Linked DNA regions of Homo sapiens: all the other regions are linked to region 1. Evidence: fine-mapped expression QTL. A gene starts in region 1. Each other region holds a variant in brackets. All regions are shown on one strand. Distances are from middle to middle. Region 1 holds the start of DENND6B (DENN domain containing 6B). Region 2 overlaps PLXNB2 (plexin B2). Region 3 overlaps PPP6R2 (protein phosphatase 6 regulatory subunit 2). Region 4 overlaps PLXNB2 (plexin B2).

Region 1 (5,142 bases):
GGAGTGCAGTGGTGCGATCTCAGCTCATTGCAACCTCCGCCTCCTGGGTTCAAGTGATTCTCCTGCCTCAGCCTCCCGAGTAGCTGAGACTACAGGCACCAGCCACCACACCCGGCTAATTTTCTGTACTTTTAGTAGAGATGAGGTTTCACCGTGTTAGCCAGGATGGTCTCGATCTGCTGATCTGCTCGCCTTTTCGGCCTCCCAAAGTGTTAGGATTACAGGCGTGAGCCACCGCGCCCGGCCTTCAGCCAGTCTTTAATCTGGTCTGGAATAAAGTTCTGCCTCCTACCTCAAAATCAGAGTACATCTTACAATGATGGCATGCAATAACCACAGGGGAAAAAAATGCTCAAGACCATTAGTAATCAGGGAAATGCAAATCAAAACCACAAGAATACCCAGGCACGGTGGCACATGCCTGTAGTTACAGCTACTTGGGAGGCCAATGAAGGAGGATCCCTTGAGCCCAGGAGTTCCAGGCTGCAGTGAGCTATGATGACATCACTGAACTTCAGCCTGGGTGATAGGATGAGATCTCTTCTCTATAAAATAAACAAAATTTTAAAAATCACAAGATACCACTACCCACTCATTGGCTGGCTACAATGAAGACGCTTGGCAACACCAAATGTTGGGAAGGATGTGGAGCAAAGGAAACATAAACTGTTGGTAGGAATGTTTCCATTTTCTTTTTTTATCTTTTTTTGAGACAAAGTCTCGCTCTGTCACACAGGCTGGAGTGCAGTGGCTTGATCTCGGCTCACTGCAACCTCCACCTCCCAGGTTCAAGCGATCTCATGCCTTAGCCTCCTGAGTAGCTAGGATCACAGGTGACCGCCACCATGCCTGGCTAATTTTTGTATTTTTTAGTAGAGACAGGTTTTCACCATGTCGGCCAGGTTGGTCTCAAACTCCTGACCTCAGGTGATCCACTAGCCTCAGCCTCCCAAAGTGCTGGGATTACAGGCATGAGCCACCTCGCCTGGCCTGGTAGGAATGTTTTTAAATGTATGGCTGCTTTGGGGAAAGCTAAACATATACCCAGGTTATGCCTCAGCAATTTGGTTTCTATGCACGCCCAAGAGAAATGAAAATGAGCCCAGGCAGCACGAGACCCCATCTCCACAAAAACGAACAAAAAATAAAAATAAAAAAATAATGGGGTATGGCGGCGTGTGCCTGTAGCCTCAGCTACCTAGGAGACTGAGTGGCAGGATAGCTTGAGCCAGGAGATCGAGGCTGCAGTGAGCTGCAATGGGCCACTGCACTCCATCCTGGGAGAGAGTGAGACCTTTCCTCTAAAAATAAAAATAAAAGCTATACAGTCGGGCCTGGCATAGTGGCTCACGCCTGTAATCTCAACACTTTGGGAGGCCGAGGCGGGCAGATCACCTGAGCTCAGGAGTTCGAGACCAGCCTGGCCAAAATGGTGAAACCGTTTCTACCAAAAATACAGAAATTAGCCTGGCGTGGTGGTGCACGCCTGTAATTCCAGCTACTCGGGAGGCTGAGGCAGGAGAATCGCTCGAACCCAGTAGGCAGAGGTTGCAGTGAGCCAAGACCATGCCATTGCACTCCTGCCTGGGCAACAAGAGCAACATTCTGTCTCAAAAAAAACAACAGAAACAAACAAACAAAAAACAATACGGCCATGTGCTACTCAACGGTGAAGCTATGTCCTGAGAAATGTGTCATTAGGCGATTTTGTTATGTGACAAACCTAGATGGGACAGCCTACCCCACACCTAGGCCAGATGATCCGAACAACACGTGGTAATCTTTTATTTTTTTATTTTTGAGATGGAGTCTCACTCTGTCGCCCAGGCTGGAGTGCAATGGCGACATCTCAGCTCACTGCAAGCTTCGCCTCCGGGGTTCAAACGATTCTCCTGCCTCAGCCTCCCCAATAGCTGGGGTTACGGCGCTCGCCAGCCACCACGCCCGGCTAATTTTTGTATTTTCAGTAGAGACAGGGTTTCACCAGGTTGGTCTCGATTTCCTGGATTCGTGATCCGCCACCCCACCTCGGCCTCCCAAAGCGGTGAGATTACAGGCGTGAGCCACCGCGTCTGGCCAACACGTGGTAATCTGAAGGGACCACCACAGTATATGCGGCCCGCCTTCCACGGAAACGTCATGAGGCCCACGACTCAAAGGCGTGCCTCATTAAGTTACCGACAGCCCCAAACTCGCCCTTCCACGCCGGGCCTCAAGGTGCTCTGTGGACCACAGCGGGGCCCGGGGCCCTCGCGAGGGAGGGAAGAGTTCGCTCCAGGTCCCCGCGATTCCCCCGGAAAGTGAAACTGCAGAGGTGTTGCGTGGACACCCGCGGTCAGACACGACCCCAGGCCGCGCGGGCCCCAGAGGAAGCGAGCGCGAGTCCGCGGTGGTGGCTGGGCGCTCAGTGAGGACGCCATTCCGCCACGAAAACGCCCGCGACGCCGCTGGCCCCTGCGCGGTGGGGCGAGGTAGGCTGGCCGGACCTGCGAAGCCCGACGAGCCCGGCGCCGGCTGGCTGCAGCTTGCTCTGCCTCCCTGGCCTGGCCCCGAGGCTCCCGCGAGCCGGGATCCGCGAACACCGGGGCCGAACCGACTCTCTCGGGCCTCAGACGGCGTGGACCCTGGAAGGCCCCAGTTCGGCCGCTTCCCCGGAAGTCCCCCAGTGGGCTCCGGCCGCTCTGGCCCGCGCGCGTCCGGCTCGCTGGTGCCCTGGGCGGCGCCCGGCCGCTGGCGCTTCTCGGGCGCTAGGGGGCGCGCGGCCGCGCGGGAGCCGCACTGGGCCGCGGCGGCCGCTCGACTGTTCTGAGGAGCGGCCCGGACGCGCGCCGCCCCCGCCCGCGTTTCCCCGGCAACCCGCGGCCGCCGCCATGGACGCGCTGTTGGGCACAGGGCCTCGCCGGGCTCGCGGCTGCCTGGGCGCGGCTGGACCCACGTCTTCAGGTCGCGCGGCGCGGACCCCGGCGGCGCCCTGGGCGCGCTTCTCCGCCTGGCTGGAGTGTGTGTGCGTGGTCACCTTCGACCTGGAGCTGGGCCAGGCGCTGGAGGTGAGCGGGCGCGAGCGCGGGCGCGGGCGGGTGGGCAGGGCTGCGCCTCTCGGGGCCAGTCCCGCCTCGCTTGGGGCCCTCGGCCGCCCCGCACTCTCCCTGGCCTTCGGCCGCCGCCTCCTGGAGGGGCCTCTTCTCCGGGCTCCAGAAGCGCTCCCCAGGCCGAGGAGGGAAGGCGAGCTGCTCGGAGTCGGATCTTGTCTTCACATTGGGATGGAGCATTTTGCATAACCTAAGTGGTACTCTTTCGATTTTTCCCAGTAAATGTCTCACATCTCCCCCCTCCATTCCCCACCGGAGCAGTGACACCTTCATCCCCTCAGTGGCTCCCGCCAGAGTCCCGGGCTTACCCTCCGCTCCGCATCCCATCTCTGGGCATAGGCGAGGCTGACGGCTCCTTCTGCAACAAAGGTCTCGGATCCGTTCCTTTGCTGCCATCACTGATGTCATCCCCACCCCAGCTGCACCCCAGAGTTCAACCTTTGTGGCTCTCCTGCTTAAAACCCTGCAGCGCCTCCTTGTTCACCTAGCATCAGATCCAGACCCCATGGGCCCCGTCCCTCCACCTGCGTCTTGTGGTGTTCTTGCTCGTGGGGGTCTGTTCATCGGCTGTGCCCATGGGCTTTCGATGTGGTCTTTCTGCTGCCTGCAGGCCTCCACTCACCTACCCACACAGGCAGCCTCCTTTCCTCCAGGGAGGCCCCGCAGGATGATCTTCTCTGTGTCCTGTGTAACACACACCAGGGAGCTGACCAGCACAGGGGAGGCCCACCTGCAGATGGAGGGAGGCTTCCCCGCGCTGGCGCAAGGAACCTCGTGAGGGGTAGTGAGCTCTCTATTACCGCAGGTGTCCAAGATCAGGCCAAATCATCATCATCAGGAAAGCCAGGCAGCGCGTCTCTGTGGTTGGGAGATGCTTTCTAAGGCCCTGCTGAACTCCAAGAGGCCATGAGAAGCATATAGTCTTCTAAACAGAAAAGCATTAACTCTAGCACTCTCTGGAGCCCCTCCCACCACACACGGTCCCCAGCAGGTGCACAGCCTCAAACAGCATCACTGGGTGGGGGCTGAGTACCAAGAAGTGTGGTGACCTGCCCAGGGTTGAAAACCTTTCTTAGTTCAATACTGTTGCCCAGATTGTTCCCCACAAAATCACAAAAGAAGTTAAGAGGTTCCTGGCCGGACGCGGTGACTCATGCCTGTAATCCCAGCACTTTGAGAGGCCGAGGCAGGCAGATCACAAGGTCAGCAGTTTGAGACCATCCTGGCCAACATGGTGAAACCACATCTCCACTAAAAATACAGAAATTAGCCGGGCGAGGTGGCACACTCCTGTAGTCCTAGCTACTCGGGAGACTGAGGAGGAGAATGGCTTGAACCCGGGAGGGGGAGGTTGCAGTGAGCAGAGATTGCACCATTGCGCTCCAGCTTGGGCGACAAAGTGAGACTCCATCTCAAAAAAAAAAAAAAAAAAAAAGGAGGTTCCTCTGTTCCTTAAGACATTCTCGTGTTATTTTCTAAAACCCATTCGGAAAGTTATTTCTGAGCTGTTGAAGGCTGTGTGTGCTTGGACTCCTGAGCTTTTGCTGGGGATGCTCAGCTCGGACTAGGGGCATGGTCAGCTGGCAGAGTGTTGGGGACCCAGGTCCATGAGCGAAACCCTCCATAGCAATGATCTGGGCACCTGCAGATCACTGAGTCTGTGCAGAAACCTGGCAGTGGATCCACCGGGGCCTGAGCACATGACTCTTGCCTTTCCTCCCTCACCTGGAAGTCACAGGGAAGATCGAGGTCGTTTTAGTCACTTACAGACTTAGGGAGCACCCACTGTGCAACTCAGTCACAGCTCAGCCCAGCTAAGCACTGCAAAGCCCCAGGACTGTGCTTGGTTCTGCGATATGGAAGGAAGACTCTAGTTGGGATGCATGCAGCTCAGAGGAAGGAATGGGCTTAGGTAAATAAGTCTTGGATGCTGAGAAGAGACAGGGGAGGGGGTCCTGTTTCAGGTAACCCCTCTCCCAAAATGCCAACATAAGCAAAAGGCAAGGAGCTGGTGATTCAGTTACTCATTCAGTAAATCACTTTGAAGGCTGGG
Region 2 (5,142 bases), 40 kb after region 1:
GCACCCGGGAGGCCCGTGACATCTTCTACAAGCCCTTCCACGGCGATATCCAGTGCGGCGGCCACGCGCCGGTATGGGCCTCAGTGTGTTCTCGCAGGGCCCGGACTGCAGGCGTCCGTTCGTGGGTTTGCGTGTCCCAGCCTGCTGGGGAGGGTGCACGTGAGCAGTGTGGCCGTGGCTCTCGCCAGCCTGGGCGCTTGCGTGGGTGGGTGCCGCATCTCTCAATGCCATTCACGCTGGCGCCAGTCCCAGGCCTGTGTCGGGCACTGGGGAACACAACAGTGAGCACGGTGGGGCTCCCTGCCATGTGGGTTCTGTTCTCGGGGACGTGTGTAGGACGTGTGCCGGAGGGAAGGGAAGGGCCTGTCCCGAGTCTTGGAGCGCGAGTGGAGAGGGCCCTTCAGGACAGGGGGTCTGCCTGCCATTGACACGCTGTGGTCCGCAGGGCTCCAGCAAGAGCTTCCCATGTGGCTCGGAGCACCTGCCCTACCCGCTGGGCAGCCGCGACGGGCTCAGAGGCACAGCCGTGCTGCAGCGTGGAGGCCTGAACCTCACGGCCGTGACGGTCGCCGCCGAGAACAACCACACTGTTGCTTTTCTGGGCACCTCTGATGGCCGGATCCTCAAGGTTTGGCCCAGGCTGGGGCGGGGAGGCTCTGGAGGGCCCGTCTGTGCACAAGGCCCGTACCCTCACCGGCCTGCCCTCGCGCACACAGGTGTACCTCACCCCAGATGGCACCTCCTCAGAGTACGACTCTATCCTTGTGGAGATAAACAAGAGAGTCAAGCGCGACCTGGTACTGTCTGGAGACCTGGGCAGCCTGTACGCCATGACCCAGGACAAGGTGAGCCAGACGCAGCCCCGGAGAGCACTCTAGGCCAAGTGTGCCCGGTCATTGCATCCCAGGCCCTTAGGACAGGCCTGGGGGCCAGAGGAGGATGGGGTGCTGCAGAGCTGGGCCCTTCTCCTTGGTCTGGATGAGGGGTGGCTGGGTGGGTCCCGGGCAGTGCCTCCATCCTGTGTCTCTCTAGCACTGCCCCGTCTCTGCCGCTCCTTCTGTTTGTCCTTTGTGGTCTCAACCATGTCTCTCCCTCTGGCCCCGCCTCTGCCCTGTCCTGATGGAAGGGACCTGGGTTGGTGTCTGAGGCGTGTTGCTGAGGGTGGATGGGAAGACGGGGTCCCTGCACAGCCCATGTGAGCTCAGTCAGTGGAGAACATGGGCCTGGGCCCCAAGCTTGTGGGGGGTTAGTGCCAGAGACCCTCAGGCCAGCCCTAGGAGCACCCCTCGGAGGGAGCCAGTGTAGAGGACAGGAGCTGCCCCGGGAGACACCATAGCCAAGACCTCCAGGCTTCCCTGGGCTCCCATCGGGATCCTGGGCCAGGCATGGCCACCCAGAGCCAGAACTGTTTAATATCAAGCCTGAGGTGTCTGAGGCTCCCGAGGCCCCGGGACAGAGCTGGGTCAAGCTGGCGGTCTGGGGACATCTGGGGTCTGCGGAAGGCCCGTGCGGCCTCTGCTGTGGTCCCACTCACGGCCCCGCTGCCCTAGGTGTTCCGGCTGCCGGTGCAGGAGTGCCTGAGCTACCCGACCTGCACCCAGTGCCGCGACTCCCAGGACCCCTACTGCGGCTGGTGCGTCGTCGAGGGACGGTGAGTGCCTGGGGTGGCTCGGGGACACGGCCTGCCTCTGGGATCCCGGAAGGTCGTGGCCTGGGTCGGGGGGCACATCGCACTGTCCTGTCCCGGGAGAACAAGACTCCACCCTGGGCTGAGGCCGCCCCCTGCGCCTGCAGATGCACCCGGAAGGCCGAGTGTCCGCGGGCCGAGGAGGCCAGCCACTGGCTGTGGAGCCGAAGCAAGTCCTGCGTGGCCGTCACCAGCGCCCAGCCACAGAACATGAGCCGGCGGGCCCAGGGGGAGGTGCGTGGTGGGTCTGGGGTGGGGGTCCTGGGCCCCAGGCCGGGCCAGGTGGGGGCTCCCCCATGCTGGGAGCTGTTGGGACAGGCAGGGGAGGGCTCCACATCTCCCCCGCCTGGGCTCTGGGCACCGAGCCTTAGGGATGGAGCCCGCCCTCCATTGGTCCCCTGGACCCCTATGACCTGGGCGGGCAGGGGTGGGGCTTGTCCATATCCAGGGTGGACTCAGGCCCTGTCCCAGGAGTTGCTGGGGTGACCACAGAGAGGCCTGTATTGGAAGACGTGGAGTCGGGTTCTGGAGGCTCCACTGGGACGTGCGCCCACACACGCAGGGAGGTCGGGTCACCGGCAGGTGGGCTGACAGGACTCGGGGTTCCCAGTGTGAGCGGCACGGCCCCTCCCTCAGGTGCAGCTGACCGTCAGCCCCCTCCCTGCCCTGAGCGAGGAGGACGAGTTGCTGTGCCTTTTTGGGGAGTCGCCGCCACACCCCGCCCGCGTGGAGGGCGAGGCCGTCATCTGCAACTCCCCAAGCAGCATCCCCGTCACACCGCCAGGCCAGGGTGAGGCCCCTTCCCGAGCCCCCGGGTGGCCCTTCTCGGTCGCACGGGGCCCTGTGCACACGGGCTCTCGCCTCTGCTGGCCCCTGGGTGCAGGCTCTGCACAGGCACACTCCGCGGCTGCTCCGGGGGCCCAGCCTGAATGAAGCCTGTGGTGGGGTTGCTGTGCCTGTTGGGGAGGTTCTGGCTTCTTGGGCTGTCCGCAGCCACGCCCCCCAGGCCTGTAGCAAAGGTGACTTGTCTTCAGCCTGCTCCCTCATCACGTCCGGAGCGGCATGTGGGTGCCAGGCGCCAGGCCCCGTCGTCTCGGCAGACGCCCCTCACCCCTTCCTGCCATGTCCAGCTTCAGAGAGCAGGGCCGTTCCCAGAGGCTGCAGGGCCTCGCATGTGGGCCAGGGCAGGCGTCGCGCCCATGTCCCCTGAGTTTTGGGGGCAGTGGGGCCACGCAGTGACGTGGGCAGGGACCTGGCAGGTCCCACTCAGACTCCAAGGAGCCGCTGCCCTCAGTGCCTGCGGGAACAGAGGGTATGAAAGCAACCTGGACCCGGGGGAGAAAGGCAAGCCCGGTGCTGCGCCCGACACCCGAACCAAGATCTGATAGCAGGTGGCAGGTCCAGCCCAGCGTGAACGGGCGTCCTGGCAGCC[C/T]CACCCGAGATCTGATAGCAGGTGGCAGGCCCCGCCCAACATGAATGCGGGGCGTCCTGGCAGGGCCCCCTGAAGACCAGGGGTCTCCACCTTGGCCCCAGGAGTCAGCCCCAGGGGAGGCCCAGCCTGGCCCTCGGCCCTGCGGCCGCCACCTTGACACCTCCCCCTCTGCTGTCTGCAGACCACGTGGCCGTGACCATCCAGCTCCTCCTTAGACGAGGCAACATCTTCCTCACGTCCTACCAGTACCCCTTCTACGACTGCCGCCAGGCCATGAGCCTGGAGGAGAACCTGCCGTGAGTGTCTTGTGCCCATCGACCCCACCCTGCCCGTCCACCCCAGCCCTGCTCACGATCCCCTCTGGATGCAGGTGCATCTCCTGCGTGAGCAACCGCTGGACCTGCCAGTGGGACCTGCGCTACCACGAGTGCCGGGAGGCTTCGCCCAACCCTGAGGACGGCATCGTCCGTGCCCACATGGTGAGGGGCCTCGGGGCCTCAGGGGACTGTTCAGGGCATGGCTGCTCCGCTGTGCCCAGGCAGCACCTGACCAGCCTTACTCTCCCAGGAGGACAGCTGTCCCCAGTTCCTGGGACCCAGCCCCCTGGTGATCCCCATGAACCACGAGACAGATGTGAACTTCCAGGGCAAGAACCTGGACACCGTGAAGGTGCGGAGGGAGGGGTGCCGGCTGGTGACAGGCAGGCTCAGGTGCGGAGGGAGGGGTGCCGGCCGGTGACAGGCAGGCTCAGGTACGGAGGGAGGGGTGCCGGCCGGTGACAGGCAGGCTCAGGTGCGGAGGGAGGGGTGCCGGCTGTGACAGGCAGGCTCAGGTGCGGAGGGAGGGGTGCCGGCCGGTGACAGGCAGGCTCAGGTGCGGAGGGAGGGGTGCCGGCTGTGACAGGCAGGCTCAGGTGCGGAGGGAGGGGTGCCGGCCGGTGACAGGCAGGCTCAGGTGCGGAGGGAGGGGTGCCGGCCGGTGACAGGCAGGCTCAGGTACGGAGGGAGGGGGTGCCGGTTGGTGACAGGCAGGCTCAGGTGCGGAGGGAGGGGGTGCCGGCCGGTGACAGGCAGGCTCAGGTGCGGAGGGAGGGGTGCCGGCCGGTGACAGGCAGGCTCAGGTGCGGAGGGAGGGGTGCCGGCCGGTGACAGGCAGGCTCAGGTGCGGAGGGAGGGGGTGCCGGTTGGTGACAGGCAGGCTCAGGTGCGGAGGGAGGGGTGCCGGCCGGTGACAGGCAGGCTCAGGTGCGGAGGGAGGGGGTGCCGGTTGGTGACAGGCAGGCTAAGGTACGGAGGGAGGGGTGCCGGCCAGTGCTGATGGGTGTGTGGGAAGCCTGAGCTCCACCCGTGCCCCCCGACTCGGGGCCCCCACATGAGGTAGAGGGCACAGGATTTATCGGGGACAGAGGCCAGGAGGCAGCACTCGGGGGCCTTTGGATGGGCCTGAAGAGAGGCAGTGGAGGAGGCAGGCGTGTGGAGATTGAGGGGCCAGTGCCACCTCCTGAGGAGGGAGCTGTGGGGGCCACGATGTCAGGTGGGCCGGGCGATGTTCTCAGGTGTGGATGAGTGGTGGAGGTGGCCGTGGGAAACCCACAGAGGACGTTCAGAGGCTTCTGCAGACACAGGTGTTTGGGCTCAGGAGTGGCCGAGGGGTCAGCTGGCATGGTAATCTGAGGGGCGGGCATGTGTGGGGTGAGGAGAGGGCTCCCACACTGTAGGCACAGAGGAGGGGCTGCAGGGGTTCTGGGAGGAGGGCCAGGGTGCCACAGCCGCCTGTCCAGGGTCCTGACGGCATGGTCTGCAGGGTTCCTCCCTGCACGTGGGCAGTGACTTGCTCAAGTTCATGGAGCCGGTGACCATGCAGGAATCTGGGACCTTCGCCTTTCGGACCCCAAAGGTACGGCTCCAGGGCAGGCCGGCTCGGCTGCTGGACCCCAGGGCCCCGGGTGGGGTGGGGGGTCACCTTCAGGACTGTGAGGGGAGGGGCAGCAGGGAGACCCCAGGGACCAGAGCCCAGCCAGGGG
Region 3 (5,142 bases), 44 kb before region 1:
CTTTGGGAGGCCGAGGCGGGCGGATCACGAGGTCAGGAGATCGAGACCATCCTGGCTAACATGGTGAAATGCCGTCTCTACTACAAATACAAAAAAAATTAGCCGGGCGTGCTGGCGGGTGCCTGTAGTCCCAGCTACTCGGGAGGCTGAGGCAGGAGAATGGCATGAACCCAGGAGGTGGAGCTTGCAGTGAGCCGAGATCGCGCCACTGCACTCCAGCCTGGGCGACTGAGCAAGACTCTGTCTCAAAAAAAAAAAAAAAAAAAGAAAGAAATTATATTTATTCTAATTTATCCAGCATCTCACTGAACTGCAATGGAAGAGCCTCGTAAGAGTATCTTATATTGCTGGAAGCAGAGGTCCTTCCCTCCCCTTTTCATTTTCTGCGTAACTGTGTGGTTTGAATGGCAACTGTGACAGTGTATATGCTGTATCTCACATGTTCCCTGCAAGTGAGACGGAACATATACCTCATTAAATATGTGCAAAACTGTTCCTGTTTTGTCAGAATTAAACTTTGGACAGGGCGCGGTGGCTCACGCCTGCTATCCCAGCACTTTGGGAGGCCGAGGCGGGCGGATCACAAGGTCAGGAGTTCGAGACCACCCTGGTCAATATGGTGAAACCCCGTCTCTACTACAAATACAAAAATTAGCCAGGTGTGGTGGTGCGTGCCTGTAGTCCCAGCTACTTGGGAGGCTGAGGAAGAAGAATCGCTTGATCCCGGGAGGTGGAGGTTGCAGTGAGCCGAGATCACACCACTGCACTCCAGCCTGGGCAACAGAGCAAGACTCCGTCTCAAAAAAAAAAGAAGAATTAAACTTGGGCTTGGAAAGACCAAGCAACTTGCTCAAAAACATGCAGAGCATCTCAAAACCAGACACAGGAGGATCAAAAACCACCAAAAGACAACAGACCATGAGCACATCTGTTTTTTTGTTTTGTTTTGTTTTGTTTTGAAACAGAGTCTTGCTCTGTCGCCCAGACTGGAGTACAGTGACACGATCTCGGCTCACTGCAACCTCCATCTCCTGGATTCAAGCGATTCTCCTGCCTCAGCCTCCTGAGTAGCTGGGATTACAGGTACACACCACTATGCCCAGCTAATTTTTGTATTTTCAGTAGAGACGGGTTTCATCATGTTGGTCAGGCTGGTCTCGAACTCCTGATCTCATGATCCACCCACCTCGGCCTCCCAAAGTGCTGAGATTACAGGTGTGAGCCACAGTGCCCAGCCAGCATATCTTCTAAACTACGTTTTTCGCTGTGACCCATCTTTGAACTTCCACCTGTACAGAACTTTTACATAAATTACACAATAAAACAGAATCAAATTGAAAAAGAAACTTATCTTACCTTCTGTGGAAATCTCTTGTTTAAATCATGTATTCAGGCAAAACAGAAAAACATTTGTGGTTTTTTTCTTGGAGTATATGCAGCTTTAAGAAAATTTTTTTCATTCAGTGGAAGATTTATAATCTCTTTACCTGAAAAATAAGAGGAAAAATCTTGCTTTAAGTTCTTCCTCGGTAAAGTTAACTTATCAAAATGGCAGACAACAGGAAAAGGAGGCAGGGTGCGGTGGCTCACACCTTTAATCCCCACAGAATGGGAGGCCAAGGCGGCAGATCACTTGAGTCCAAGAGTTTAAGACTAGCTTGGGTGACATGGAAAAACCTCATTTCTACCAAAAAATACAAAAATTAGCCGGGTGTGGTGGCGCATGCCTGTAGTCCCAGCTACTCGGGAGGCTGAGGCGGGATCACTGGAGCCTGGGAGGCAGAGGTTGCAGTGAGCTGAGATCATGCCACTGCACTCCAGCCTGGGTGACCAGAGACTGACCCCATCTCAAAAAAAAGCAATTACAAAATTTTAAAAATAAAGCAATGGAACAGCATTTATTATCTGTCCCTTAAATATAAAATTTGTCTTTGATTTCATAATTCAACTAGCAAACATGACAGTTAAAATGATATTTTAAGATAGTTTTCTTTTTTTTTTCTTTTTTAAAGAGATGGGGTCTCACTATGCTGCCCAGGGTGGAGAGCAGTAGCTATTCACAGCTCCAGTCCCACTACTAACCAGCATGGGAGTTTCTGATGTGCTCCATTTCCAACCTCAGCTGGTTCACACCTCCTTAGGCAACCTGGCAGTCTTCCTTTTCTGGGAGGTCACCATACTGATGCCGAACTTAGTGCAGACACCCAGTTCACACAGCACATTACAGCCCTCAAGTGATCCTCCTGCCACAGCCTGCTGAGTAGCAGGAATTACAAGCACAAACCACTGTGCCTGGCTATATTACAACTTTAAAATTCCATTTTATAATTATCCTAGTCCCAGGTGAAATAATGTATTTAATAATTTGTAGGATGGGTGGAGTATTATGTTTAATTGGCGTTGTCAGGTATGAAGTCCTTCAGAAAATAAAATTTGTTTTAAAAAAGGTCTGACGTTTAGCTCTTGAACCCACTGTCACTTAAATTTCCAATAATGATTAAAAATATTTTTAAATTAGGATTCCCAATACCCTGACCTCTACAAAGGGTTTCTTAGAAATAGGTCCTACATTTGTGGCTGGGGGCAGTGGCTCACGCCTATAATCCCAACACTTTGGGAGGCCGAGGCGGGTGGATCATGAGGTCAGGAGTTCAAGATTAGCCTGGCCAACATGGTGAAACCCCGTCTCTACTAAAAATACAAAAACTAGCGAGGCACAATGGCAGGCGCCTGTAATCCCAGCTACTCGGGAGGCTGAGGCAGGAGAATCACTTGAACCCGGGAGGCAGAGGTTGCAGTGAGCCGAGATCACGCCACTGCACTCCAGCCTGGGCAACAGAGTGAGACTCCGTCTCAAAAAAATGAAAAGAAAAAAAGAAATAGGTCCTACTTTTAAACTTTTTTCTTTAAAACATAGCGTGGCCAGGCGTGGTGGCTCA[C/T]GCCTGTAATCCCAGCACTTTGGGAGGCCAAGGCGGGTGGATCACGAGGTCAGGCATTCGAGACCAGTCTGGCCAACATAGTGAAACCCCATCTCTACTAAAAACACAAAAAATTAGCTGGGCGTGGTGGCAGGCGCCTGTAATCCCATCTCCTCGGGAGGCTGAGGCAGGAGAATTGCTTGAACCTGGGAGGCAGAGGTTGCAGTGAGCCGAGATCGCGCCATTGCACTCCAGCCCTGGTGACAGTGCAAGACTCCATCTCAAAAACAAACAAACAAGACGTGGCACATAGTTCTGTGCACTGTTAGTATTTGGAAAGCATCTTGAAAGATCAATGGAAAGCTAAAACATTCTAAATTTAACATGAATACACTTACTTTTGATTCAGAAAATAAAATCAGATCTTTCAAAATAAAAAAAAAGTGTCGATCACTGTCGAAGTTAGGTGATGGGTACATAGATGTTAATTATGTTTTCTCTACTTTTGCATATTTTTACATTTTATATACAAATCAAAAAGGTGGGATGTGGTGGCTCACATCTGTAATCCCAGCACTTTGGGAAGCCAAGGCAGGAGGATCACTTAAGTGCTGGAGTTTAAGACCAGCCTGAGCAACACAGCGAGACCTTGCCTCTACTTAAAAAAAAAAAAAAAAAAAAAATTACTTAGCTGGGTGTGGTGGCACACACCTGTGGTCCCAGATACTTGGGAGGCTGAGTGGGAGGACTGCTTGAGCACAGGAGTTCGAGGCTGCAGTGAAAGGTCAGGCGCGGTGGCTCACACCTGTAATCCCAGCACTTTGGGAGGCCGAGGTGGGTGATCACTTGAGGTCAGGAGTTCAAGACCAGCCTGGCCAACATGGTGAAACCCTGCCTCTACTAAAAACACAAAAAATTAGCCGGGCGTACGCCTCTAATCCCAGATACTCAGGAGGCTGAGGCAAGAGAATTGCTTGAACCCTGGAGGCAGAGGTTGCAGTGAGCCACTCCAGCCTGGGCAACAGAGTGAGACTCTGTCTCAAAAAATAAAATAAAATAAAAGGCTGCAGTGAGCCACAATCACACTACTGTACTGCAGCTTGGGTAACAGAGTGAGACCCCATCTCTAAAAAAATAAAAAATAAAAATCAAACAAAAAAGATACTCAAAGTGGTGCCAGTAGCCCAGGGATAAGTCAGTGTTACCACCTTCTAAAACAGGTAATACTTTTTATACCTAACACTTCATGATTAAAATTAAGCTAAATAACTCAAAATAGGCTTTCAGCCCACTTTTCTAAAACTTTATACAGTTTTCAAAATAAAGAAATGTGTTTTCTTTTTTTTTTTTTAGATGGAATTTCACTCTTGTTGCCCAGGCTGGAGTGCAATGGCGTGATCTCGGCTCACCACAACCTCCGCCTCCTAGGTTCAAGCGATTCTCCTGCCTCAGCCTCCCAAGTAGCTGGGATTGCAGGCACGCACCACCACACCCAGCTAATTTTGTATTTTTAGTAGAGACAGGGTTTCTCCATGTTGGTCAGGCTGGTCGTGAACTCCCAACCTCAGCTGATCCGCCCACCTCGGCCTCCCAAAGTGCTGGGATTACAGGCGTGAGCCACTGCACCCGGCCAAGAAATGTTTTTGATCTTGGGCCTGTTTATTCTAATCTTGAGTCAATGATTTTGTAGCATGCATCTTCTTAACAAATTCTACTCAGTGTGAGCTGGAGGAAGAATGTGTGTGTCCCTAAACAGCACCAGCATTAGCCAGGTGTGGTGGTGCACGCCTGCAGTCCCAGCTACTCAGGATTGAAGTGGGAGGATCCCTTCGGCCTAAGTGTGCATGGTTGTGGTGAGCTATGATCACACCACTGCACTCCAGCCTGGGTGACAAAGTGAGACCTTGTATTGTGGGCGGCAAGCTACCCAGGTGCCAAGGCAAGAGACTGAGGGCACGAGCTGTTCCAGTATAATAAATAAAATATATAAAGTAAGAATAGTTATACTAGAAATAGATTATAGATATATGTGAATATTATTAATCATTAGTTTGTAGCATTACTCTTTATTCCAATATTATAATAATCTTTGTTCTACAATTATAACCTAGGAAAAACCAGGCCATACAGAGATAGGAGCTGAAGGGACATGGTGAGAAGTGACCAGAAGACAAGAGTGTGAGCCTTCTGTCACGCCCAGACAGGGCCACTAAAGGACTCCTTG
Region 4 (5,142 bases), 27 kb after region 1:
AGCCAGCAGTTGACAGGGGCAAGGGGCAGGTGGTGGGAGGGAGGTGCTCCAGCATGGCCCCCCCCACTCCCTCTCAGCCTCAGAGATTGGCCAGGGGAGCTGAGGGGCTTGGCCTCCCCACTCCTATGTTGGCACCGAGCCTGATCTGGTGACCACCCTGAGGGACTTCAGGAGAAAAGGATGTTAGGGAGGAGGGCGTGAAGGTGGGGCGCCCCAGGCAGGCCGCCCAGGCCCAGCAAAGCTCGCTGGAGGGTCCCCCAGTTCCACATCTAGACCTGGGGCCCAGTGGCTCTCGACCAGGCCCTGTGGGGTTTGAAGTCCTCAGCTCCACCATGAGCAGAGCAAGCCTCCGCGTGGAGCAAGGGGCTGGACCTGGCCTCCAGGGGCACCCACCTCCCCACACAGCTCCAGCCACGGGCATCACCTCCCACTCACTGTCCTGCCCCCACTCTGAGATGGGCATTTCCTCACTGGGAAATCCCTGTCCCTCTGGCCTCCCAAAGCCCTGAGTGTTTGCCCCTGTGGGGCCCAGCCCACACCCTGGGCTGCCTCACCCTTGGCCTGGACCCAGGTCCTGCCCAACACCCTGTGCCTCACCAGCCCCCAGCTCATCCTGGGCAGACGCAGCCCCTCTCCCCTGCTGAGACGGCCCTGCCCCCACCCCACTTCCCCATGCCACACATGGCCCCTCCCTCGGGGCTCCAGGCAGCGCTGGGTTCTGAGAGCCCCACTGCCCCTCTTAGCCCAAGTGCCCCGGCCTGAGGCTTCTCTCCCAGGCTCTTTGTACTGGGGACGAGTTCTGGGTGTTGGGGTGAGACCCTGTTGGCAGGGCTTTTCCGGCAGCACCCAGCCATGTGTGTCTGCACATGTGTGGTCATGTGTGCAAGTGGTGTCTGGCACACAGGCTTGGCGCGGTGCCCCAAGCTAATTGTGGGGTTCAGCGGTGATGGGCGAGGCGGGGCTGGGGTGACCGCTGAGGCGCTGACAGGCTGACGGGGAGATTACAGGCCTTGCTTACTGCTCACTGGCTGGGGCCTCACCCGTCCACCCCCCAACGCCCACCCCGGGGGTGAGAAGGGGGCTGTGGGCGGGGGCTGGTCTTGAGCCAGCTGCATCCAGGCAGGACCTGGTCTCTGAGCAGCCGGCTGCTGCGGGGTTGAGCTGGAAAGGGGGAGATGCGTGGGGGCCACTCAGAGGAGAGCCTGCAGGTGGGGCTGGGCACCGGCGGGCCGGGAGGCCTCCTTTCAGGAGAGACTCCAAGTGACTGAGCCCCAGAATCCCACGAGAGTCCCTCCGTGGCCGCCTGCTGTCTGACCGCATGTCCTGTCCTGATGAGTTGGTGGTTCCTGCTGTAGCCATCGGCCTCGTGTGCCCCGAGCGCCTGGCGGTGCCCACCCCTCCCACAGGAGGTCCTCAGGAAGCACGGAGACATCGGTAGGTTCATTGCGCTGCCCAGCTTTCTGACCCGAAGGACCACGGTGTAGCAAGAGGGGGCTGCAGCTGTGCCCAGGTTGGACAGGATGGGGTCTGGGACCCCGAAAGGGGTGGTTGAGGAGAGAGGTGGTTCTGCAGGCCTGGTGCGTGTGGGGACAGGGCGCCGTAGCCAACTGGATCCCACCTTCTGTCTGAGGGCTGGGGAGGACCATCCTCCAGATGCGCCAGTGGGCCGTGGCCAGAGAGGAGGCTGAGGAGGGCCTCACAACTGTGTGTAGGATGGGAGGGCAGCCTGGGGCCCCAGTCTAGGGACGCACCATATACAGGGGCTGCACTTGGTGCAGAGGCGGAGAGGGGGCTGGGGCAGGCCCCTTGGGCATGGCCAGGTGAGCTCAGGGGGTGCCTGAGGGCCAGGGCTAGATACAGAGGCCCTGGGTACCAGGTGGCCTGGGTGTGTCAGGAGGTGTGGACCAGTGGGGGCTGTGACTAACTCGGCTGGAGCAAGTGACAGGAGGAGCTGGGGCTTCATGGGGCACCCCCAGGATCCTGGGCTGGTGACCCCATCACTGCCACCAGCCAGGGTGACTTTTCCTGCTGGGACCCAGAGCCCAGACTGCAGGGGAGGCTGGCCCTAAGTAGGAACCCCACCCTGAAACCAGGCTGGCGGGGAAGGGGTGCGACGGCCTCCACCTGGGAGGGGTCCTCAGCCGAGAGTCCAGCGGGGACCGCTGTAGACGCTGAAGCGAGGCTCAGGCCTCCACATCAGTCTGTCCCTGGAGCCCCGCCCCGCCCCGCCCCGCCCCAGCTCCTAGGTCGGGTTGTGCCGGGAGCGTTCGGCCTTTGCCTCGGGTGAGTCTGGCCTTGACCCTGGGTCCGGAGTCCTGCGGGAGGCTGCTCCGGGCAGGGTCGTGCATGATTGGCAGCTGGGCCGGGAGGGGCCGAGCCCTGAGACCGACCGGGGGCACGGGCGGAGCCACCATCGGCGGGGCGGAGCTGCTCCCCGCGCCCCTTCCACGGCTCGGAGGACTTAGGTAATGGCCGGCTGTGCGATCCGATGTGCCCGACGCCAGGTGAGCGCCCCGCGGGGACGACGTCTCCTGCGCTCGTGTGACTGTCGCCGCCGCCGTCATTGTTACTCGGGTCAGACTCCCACCCGCCCGCGCGTCCTGGGCCCCCGGCCTGGTGAGGTTTGTCCCAGAGGCGGCCACGTGCTCCCTCCAGGTGCGCGAGGCCGAGGGGCGGACGGGGCGCCGGAGTCCCCGGGAGGGCGCGGGCGGTGGCCGTGGAGCTTGGGCTCGCGGGGGGCAGTGGGCGGCGCCGAGGAGGCGCGGGCCTAGTCCC[T/C]GCGCTTCCTGGCCCCGGGCGCGCTTTGCCCCTGGCTCCCGGGCAACCGTTCTGCGCCCTCCGGGGAGTCTGGCGGTGCCGGCGCCGGGGGAGGGGCTGTGCCACCTGGGTCGGCCTGCGAGGAATAGTCCAGGGCGCTCCACACAGGCCGGGTGCCCGCCTTTGGCTCTGGCCGGGTACCGGGCTCGCAGACCCACCCAGGAGACACCGCCCCCCGCCTCCCGGGCTGAACTCTGACCCGGGTCACCGGTGGGTGGGGCTGGGTGGCGGGGCCGCCGGTCTCGCCCTCGCCGGGTCTCCCGCGCGCTCTCCACCCAGTCCCTCCCCGCGCCTACCCACGGGCGCGGCGCTGCGGGAAGGGGCGGCCGGGGTCCTTGCCGACCCCCCAGCCCCACGCCCCGCGGCACCCCCCTCGCGCTTGTTTTGAAAACAGCGGAGGCTGGGATTCGCCGGCGCGTCTGTTTTGTTTCCTCTGATGTGTTTAGCGCTCTGGGATAATTGCAGATTTGCGTGTGTCGCTAGCTTTGGCCCGGCCCCCTGGCTGCTGGCTGCGGGGCCTCCGGGGCCTCCGTGGCTTTTCTGTGACGCCTGTCGCCCCGTTCCGGGACAGCCACTCTCAGACGCGCCTTGGCCTGTGCTTGGGGCAGCCTATCGCTCACTTGGTCCGAGGCTGCTTCCCCCGCCCCCGCACCGGGCCCCCCCCCCACCCCACGCAGGGCCTGTGTCCACCCCAATCCTTTGAGCCCTGGAGGGCCGCACAGCCCTAGGACCTCTGCCTTCTCCACCGCCCATGTCCTAGGTGCTCATGCCACCCCCTCCTGCCCTCCCAGGCCTAGGCCCGAGCTCTCCTCGTTCTTCATGGCGGCTGCTGCCTGGATCCCCATCTTGGCCCCTGCCGGGCCGCTGCCCATGCACCTCCTCTGGCCCCTGCCCTCTCTGGTTCCCGTGCCAGAGCCCACAGCCTGGCCTGGCCAAGAGCAGCCCCCAAGCTGGGCCTGCCCTCCCACTGGGCCTGACTGCTTTGTGCTGGTTTGATTTTAGCATTAAGAATGGTCAGTCTGGCTGGGTGTGGTGGCTCACGCCTGTAATTCCAGCACTTTGGGAGGCCAAGGCGGGTGGATTGCCTGAGCTCAGGAGTTCGAAACCGGTCTGGGCAACACGGTGAAGCCCCATCTCTACTGAAATACAGAAAATTAGCTGGGCATAGTGGCGTGCACCTGTAGTCCCAGCTACTGGAGAGGCTGAGGCAGGATAATTGCTTCAACCTGGGAGGCAGGGGTTGCAGTGAGCCAAGATCATGCCCCTACACTCCAGCCTGGGTGACAGAGTGAGACCTGTCTCAGAAAAAAGAAAAGAATGGCCCAGTCTGTTTGCTTGAAAATACTGAAAGGCAGAGAACTCCCAATTTTAGTCCCCACTGGAACCACCCCGCAGTGCAGCCAAGACTTGGGGCGGTCTCAGAACCAAGGCTGGCAGGAGTTTGGGGGCCTGGCAGCCCCCACTCTTGGCCTCATCTGGAGTAGGGCTCTGTCCTTCCCCCTTACATGCCTCTTGTTTACCTTTACCCAGTGGGAGGGGCGGGGGCCAGACTCAGCCCGTGCAAGGGGCCTGGGGGCTGCTGGTCAGAAAAAAAAAACAAAAGGGACCTCAGGAGAGGGCCACAGGTGCCCAGCCAGCAAGCAGCTCCTGCTGCCTCCCAGGCTGTCTAGGTTGTAGAGGGGAGGCCCAGCATCCCTGTGCTGCCCTTGGCCTACATCGGAGTTCTGGTTGGGGGAGGAGACCCTTCTGCTCTGTTGGCCTGGGGGTGACCTGCGGGGACAGGTCTTCTGGGCTCGCGCCCCTGCATGTCACCACCCCTTCCCGGCTCACTGAGTTTGGACCGGCAGGTGCCCAGTGACCAGATCCAGTGTTTGGACTTGTTGGGGCAGGGCGGCGGGGCAGCCGGGGCCTGTCGGGGAAGACCATAGACCACAGAGCAAGGCCAGTCCCTCAGGGGCTGGGTTAGGGAGGGTGTCTCGGGGTCTAAAGGATGGGCAGGGGCTTTCCAGGGAGCACAGTGAACATGGACGTGGGAATGTCGTGAGGCAGCGTTCTCTGAGTGGGCACAGCTGTAAAGATTTCCACACCCACTCAACCTCAAGGCAGCCCTCTGAGGTGGGCGCCATAATGACCCCCAGGTTACATATGGGGAAACTGAGGCACAGAGCAGCTTTCTGAATGGCCCACATGAGCCAGCTAGAACGTGACAGAGCTGGGGTGTGAACTCACTGGTCTGGCTCTGGACTTCAGGCCTCGAGGTCCCTGGGTGCAGCAGCGTCAGGTGTGACCACAGCCACCTAAGGAAGAAACTCCTTTTTCTGGGGTAGC

The links.
Region 2: its variant is fine-mapped to the expression of DENND6B in whole blood (TOPMed, PIP above 0.99).
Region 3: its variant is fine-mapped to the expression of DENND6B in whole blood (TOPMed, PIP above 0.99).
Region 4: its variant is fine-mapped to the expression of DENND6B in blood mononuclear cells (TOPMed, PIP above 0.99).

The regions. Positions count from the first base shown.
Region 1 is chr22:50,324,717-50,329,858 of GRCh38, reverse strand. It overlaps DENND6B (DENN domain containing 6B), which reads left to right and starts at 2,847. Exons shown (of 20, transcript NM_001001794.4): 1 at 2,847-3,047. The coding sequence starts at 2,871. RefSeq lists a silencer at 2,459-3,098.
Region 2 is chr22:50,284,446-50,289,587 of GRCh38, reverse strand. It overlaps PLXNB2 (plexin B2), which reads left to right. Exons shown (of 37, transcript NM_012401.4): 3 at 1-71; 4 at 446-628; 5 at 717-845; 6 at 1,551-1,651; 7 at 1,795-1,921; 8 at 2,324-2,477; 9 at 3,301-3,415; 10 at 3,490-3,598; 11 at 3,687-3,788; 12 at 4,923-5,015. Among named protein-coding and RNA genes, the nearest start is that of MAPK11, 17 kb to the right of the region's middle. The variant C/T (reference allele first, on the strand shown) is at 3,120.
Region 3 is chr22:50,368,365-50,373,506 of GRCh38, reverse strand. PPP6R2 (protein phosphatase 6 regulatory subunit 2) reads right to left here. Exons shown (of 24, transcript NM_001242898.2): 2 at 1,357-1,487. It also overlaps the pseudogene RN7SL500P. Among named protein-coding and RNA genes, the nearest start is that of PPP6R2, 28 kb to the right of the region's middle. The variant C/T (reference allele first, on the strand shown) is at 2,940.
Region 4 is chr22:50,297,639-50,302,780 of GRCh38, reverse strand. All of the region lies in intron 1 of PLXNB2 (plexin B2), which reads left to right. Among named protein-coding and RNA genes, the nearest start is that of PLXNB2, 7.4 kb to the left of the region's middle. RefSeq lists a silencer at 1,041-1,090 and enhancers at 1,228-1,784, 1,785-2,341. The variant T/C (reference allele first, on the strand shown) is at 2,776.